Regions from separate parts of the Homo sapiens genome. Here region 1 is linked to region 2. Evidence: fine-mapped expression QTL. A gene starts in region 2. The other region holds a variant in brackets. All regions are shown on one strand. Distances are from middle to middle. Region 1 overlaps MAPK8IP3 (mitogen-activated protein kinase 8 interacting protein 3). Region 2 holds the start of MAPK8IP3 (mitogen-activated protein kinase 8 interacting protein 3).

What was found.
Region 1: its variant is fine-mapped to the expression of MAPK8IP3 in sun-exposed skin (GTEx, PIP above 0.99). The same link has a PIP of 0.9 or more in unexposed skin.

The regions. Positions count from the first base shown.
Region 1 is chr16:1,731,044-1,733,941 of GRCh38, forward strand. All of the region lies in intron 4 of MAPK8IP3 (mitogen-activated protein kinase 8 interacting protein 3), which reads left to right. Among named protein-coding and RNA genes, the nearest start is that of MIR3177, 2.5 kb to the right of the region's middle. The variant A/T (reference allele first, on the strand shown) is at 1,713.
Region 2 is chr16:1,704,764-1,707,661 of GRCh38, forward strand. It overlaps MAPK8IP3 (mitogen-activated protein kinase 8 interacting protein 3), which reads left to right and starts at 1,432. Exons shown (of 32, transcript NM_001318852.2): 1 at 1,432-1,894. The coding sequence starts at 1,577. RefSeq lists silencers at 1-279, 1,186-1,525, 1,796-1,905, 1,926-1,975 and an enhancer at 763-1,627.

The DNA of each region.
Region 1 (2,898 bases), 26 kb after region 2:
GCAGGAGAATTGCTTGAGCTTGGGAGGCGGAGACTGCAGTGAGCTGAGATCACGCCACAGCACTCCAGCCTGGGCGACAGAGAGTCCATCTCAAAAATAAATACATAAATAAATAATAAATCATAAAAATAACAAAATTAGCCAGTGTGATGGTGCATGCCTGTGGTCCCAGCTACTCTGGAGGCTGAGGCAGGAGAATCACCTGAACCCCAGGGGCGGAGGTGGCAGCGAGCCAAGATTGCGCACTGCACTCCAGCCTGGGTGGTAGAGTGAGAGCCTGTCTCAAAAAAGAAAGAAAGGGAATCAGTACTCAGAGCACTTAACAGTCCTTTGCAGACAGGCACACATTAGGGAGAAACGGGAGTCCCTGTGCTGGCTCCCCACAGAGGTGGGACAAGGCGATGCTCTGCCCTCCTCTTCACCTCCTACCCAGATGCCCGGAGAGGAGACAGGAGGGCCAGGCAGTGTCACGTGTCACGCATGAGGCCAGTTCTAGGGTTAGTTCCAGGGGCTCCAAGCCCAGCTGTGGCACCTGTTAGTGGGGTGGCTAGTCACCCTATATTTCCAACTTCCTTTAAAATAAAGGAAATAGAACTGACCAGGATGCATTGCTTTGAGGATTTCCTGTTAGTAGGGTGGCCAGCCACCCTATATTTCCAACCTCCTTTTCGTTTTTGTAAAATAAAGGAAGTAGAACTGACCGGAATGCATGGCTTTGAGGATTTGAGATCACAATCTTATACGCGTACCTGCATGTGTACATATTTTTCCCCTAGGGGCAATGGTTTAGTGTTTGAGGGACTTTCTAGAACATACTGCCTCAAATACTGTGTGGATGAGCCCAGGAGCCTTGGCCAGCCCTGCACTGAGTCTTATTCCTTCCACAGGGTGGGGGTACCGGTGGGTTTCCAGGGCTCGGTGCTGGTTTTCCTCAGAGAGTCGGGGGAGCCTGCCTAGAATGGGTTCCTCTCCGTTTTCTGTGCCCTTTGAATCAGGAGAAAGCCGGGCTGCAGGCCCCAGGGAGCAGAGCATCAGAGATCTTGCCAGGGTATTGCAGCTCCAGGGGACCGGCCATGGGAGACCAGAGACGCGACCTGGGCTGGGGAGGTTGGCGCTCTCGTTCTGAGTCTCCAGCAGCGGGGAGGAAGGGCCTGAAGTCAGAAGCTGCCGTCCTACAGAGCTGGGGCAGCTGGAAGGGGGGAAGCCTGTTTCTGCCCCCAAGCCTCCCACAGCCAGGGCTGCGATGGCAAAAGCCTCCCTCACACCCCATCAAGGCCTGGCCAGCTGCGAAAGCTGCATCGTGCCTGCCTGTTCTGGGGGTTACACCTGCAAACGAGAAGGGTCAGAACGTCCAGCTCTGGGCTTCATGGGTCACGTTCTGGATGATACAGAAGAAGCTGTCAGACTCTGCTTCCGAGTCTCTGGACGTGAGAGCAAATGCACGGTGTGCGCAAAGGCCCAGCTGGCCAGGGGCGTGCCGTGGAGCCTGCAGCAGCAGGTCCTCAGGCAGTCTCGCTGCTCTCAGCTGGAGCAGGGACCTGCAGTTCTCAGGGACTTGCCCTGAGAACGGGCGGCGCCGGCCATCTGCCCACCCAGAGCACCATGAGAACTACGCCAGGGCGTGTGGATGCCAGCTTGCCCCGAGAACAGGTGGTGCCAGCCATCCGCCCACCTGGAGCACCATGAGAACTACGCCAGGGCGTGTGGATGCC[A/T]GCTTGCCCCGAGAACGGGTGGTGCCAGCCATCCGCCCACCTGGAGCACCATGAGAACTACGCCAGGGCGTGTGGATGCCAGCTTGCCCCAAGAATGGGCAGCGCCAGCCATCCGCCCACCTGGAGCACCATGAGAACTACACCGGGGCGTGTGGATGCCAGCTTGGCAAGCTGTGAAAGCCTTGCAGGTGTTTCCATCAGATCCCACAGTGGGAGATTCTCATTCGCAGCTCCCGTCTCGTGGCATGCACGCTGGGACATCCTCACCTCTGGCTCTCGGCAGTTGGAAGAGGATTCCAAGCTAACTGGAATTAAAATCGAACCTGGACCCGGGATCTTTGTGTTGTTTTTCAGGGGAGCTGGGGGCAGAGGCAGGCAGTTTGGCCATCCCCTGGGAGCTGCAGCATTCCAGAACCTTCAGCTGCCTCCTTGCCAGCGCAGCCTCAGACAGGAGTGCCTCTGAGGCTGTGTCGGAGGGCGCCTGGGCAGGAGGAGCCCAGCAACAGTGTGCCCAGCTCATCCCAGATCCCAGAGGTGTGACGTGTGAACTCAGGACGCCGGCCGAGAGCCCAGGTTCCGAGTTGCAGTGATCCCCACCCCAGGCCCACAGACAACACCCGAGAGGTCCTGAGAGCCCCAGGGCCATGTGAGCTCAGCCAAGAGCAGAGGCTGCCCCAGCTCCAGAGCCGCCTGATGCTGCCGTCGTCATGGGCCAGGCCAGGCCTACCTGGAAGAGGCGCGTGGCTGCGGGGCAAGGAGTACTTCGTCCTGCATGTTTCTCTCATGGTGTGGGGCAGAAGGTGGCCCAGGAACCTGCTGTCGAGGTGTCCCCGCGGGACCCAGGGACCTGAGCTGAGTCTGGGCTGGGCGCCGCCCCCGTCCCTTGGCTCGTCCTGGCGCCGAGAGTTCAGTGGGAAGCCCCATGGTGGTGCACCTCGTCCTTGTCAGGGCCCCACTGCTGGGGTCCCCTCTGCAGCTCTGCCACGGCTCCTGAAGGCTATGTCAGGGCTGCTGCACTCCCCTCAGGGAACCAGACGGTGCCCTCTGGAAGAAGCCCCTCGATCATTTTGTAAGGGATGGATCTGGGGTGCTCTCTTGTCAGCGCTGCCACAACCAGGTCCTTCTGCCTGACCTGGCCCCAGCCATTCACTTCTTCTGGGCACACAGGACCTTTGGCACCGGCCGT
Region 2 (2,898 bases):
TTTAAGTTCAGGCCTCAAGTACTTCCAGAGACAAAAGTCCTGGGGACACTGGCTCAGAATGGGGGAAAGGGGACCCTGGGCCAAGAGTCAACCAGGATGACATGCAGAATCAGACCTGCAAGGGCTGCAGATACTGTAGTTATGAGGCACACCCAACGCTTAAAGATAAATATGTGGTTGGAAGTATAAGAGCCTATTAAAACTGCTAGAATATAAGAAATCAAATAGGACAAAAACAGAATCATTGGCAGGGTGCAGTGGCTCACGCCTGTAATCCCAGCACTTTGGGACGCCGAGGGAGGCGGGTGGATCACTTGAGGTCAGCAGTTCAAGACCAGCCTGGCCAACATGGTGAAACCCCGTCTCTACTAAAAATACAAAAAAATGAGCCGGGCGTTAATAGCGCGTGTCTGTAGTCCCAGCTACTCAGGAGGCTGAGGCAGGAGAATCGCTTGGACCCAGGAGGCGAAGGTTGCAGTGAGCCGAGATCGCGCCATCACACTCCAGCCTGGGCGACAAGAGCGAAACACCGTCTCAAAAAAAAAAAAATCGGTGCAATTAATAACCCAGTGGATGGGTTAAACAGATTGCACGTAGCTGAAAAGTAACCGAAAATCTGGACTGGCGCGGTGGCTCACGCCTGTCATCCCAGCACTCTGGGAGGTCGAGGCGGGCGGATCACTTGAGATCAGAAATTTGAGACCAGCCTGGCCAACATGGCGAAACCCCGTCTCTACTAAAAATACAAAATTAGCTGGTCTGTAATCCCAGCTACTCCGGAGGCTGAGGGAGAAGAATCACTTGAACCCAGAAGGCGGAGCTTGCAGTGAGCCAGGATCGCGCCACCGCACTCCAGCCTGGGCGACAGAGCAAGACTCCATCTCAAAAAAAAAAAAAAAAAAGAAAATCTGAAGCAGTCAGTGCAGTAGGGAGAAGTGGGCGAAAGGAAGGAGGCCACGCTGCTGGGTTTCAGGATGAGATGGGCGTTGAGGGTGCATTCACAGAATCCCGGGAGGAGCCAGCTGAGCGGGGAAGGCATCAGGAGAGGGGAGGCACTGAGCGGGGCGCGGTGCTGTAGGGAACGGAGGCTCATCAGGGCGGCCGGGATTGAGGCGCAGGCGCTGAGCCTTCACCTAAGTCCGCCGAAGTGTGCAGAGCCTGGAGACGGGATCGAGGTCACCGGAAGCCCACGGTTGCGGGGACATGATCAAGCTACAGCGCGCTGGGGGAAGCGACCACTGCCGCCCCGCGGATCCCACCGGCCTGGCCGGGAGCTCCCTCTGCCCGGCTCACCCGCGCTTCCGGCCCGAAGCCCGGCTTCCTCTGACGTCACGGCCCCTGCGCCCCCTGGCGGCGCGGCTGCGGCGGGACGCGCGGGCACCGCCCCCTCCGGCTGGAGGGCGGGACTTCCGGTGAGTGAGTGACGGGCGCAGCCTCGGCAGCGGCGGCGGCGGAGCCCTGAGGCGACAGCAGCTGCGGGAGGCGACGGGCTGCGGCCTGCGGAACCTGAGGCAGCTGGGGAGGGCCGGGCGCGCCGGCCGGATAGCGAGCCGCGCTGGCGGCGGCGGTGGCCGCGATGATGGAGATCCAGATGGACGAGGGCGGCGGCGTGGTGGTGTACCAGGACGACTACTGCTCCGGCTCGGTGATGTCGGAGCGGGTGTCGGGCCTGGCGGGCTCCATCTACCGCGAGTTCGAGCGCCTCATCCACTGCTACGACGAGGAGGTGGTCAAGGAGCTCATGCCGCTGGTGGTGAACGTGCTGGAGAACCTAGACTCGGTGCTCAGCGAGAACCAGGAGCACGAGGTGGAGCTGGAGCTGCTGCGCGAGGACAACGAGCAGCTGCTCACCCAGTACGAGCGTGAGAAGGCGCTGCGCAGGCAGGCGGAGGAGGTGCGTGGGCCGCGGGACCCGCCCGCATCCCCGTCCCGGACCCCCAGCCAGCCCCGGGCCCCGGACCCAACACCCGTCCCGACCCCAGACCCCGCTCCGGCACCCCGGACCGCGGGACCCCTGGACCCCCAGACCCCGCCCCGAGACCCGCCTGGACCCCATATCCCCCGCCCCGGGACTTCCCCACCCCCTCTGCCCGCCGTGAGACACCTCCCTAGAGCACTCCCCCGCCTGCCCCGGGACCCCACCCCGACTCCCGGGGACCCCCTTTTCCGCCCAGGCCTGGGCCCTGGCCCCCTCCTCCGTGCCCCCAGCCCTGAATCTTCAGCCCCAAACCCGATGTGCCTGGCGTCATCCCCGGGGAGCTCAGCTTCAAAGCCAGGCCTCACTCTCCCCTCCCCACCCACCTCTGCATGACAATTGCCTTTGCTTTCGTGCGTGTGTTCAGTCAAAACCGTTTCCCGACCCCAAGTGCTACCTCTGTTGGCTGCCATTCTAAACCCATCTAGAAAAGGAATCTTTTGGTGTTCTTAGGGGGCTGCAGCCGTCTGTGGATGATGTTGGAGACCTTTCCCTTGTCCCTAATCCCGTATTTTGAAGGTCTGTGACACGGGTGAATTGGGTGGTTGATGTAAACACAGAACAAGGCCGCAGGCGGGCTGCTCCTCTGTCAGCAGAAGGAACACTCGAGTTTCTGGAGGTGATGTCTTTGCCCCCTTGGTTCCTTGCTTGGCGAGATTGTTAGCTGATGTAGCCAGGGCTGAGAAACTCCACTCTGGCTTCTGAGGAGTTAACAGTCTGAGTTTGAAGCGTTTAATTCTGTGCTAGGATGTCTCCATAACCTGGAAATCGCTTGTCTGTGAAGCAGTTACAAGAGCCGGGCCCTGTGGGGAGCACCACTTAGCTTCATTCATTCACCGTCAGATACTGAGCTCGGCCTGCCTGTGTGTGGGCCCAGAACCTCGCCCTTTGTCAGAAACAGGTTCAGGGAGGCTGGTTCCCAT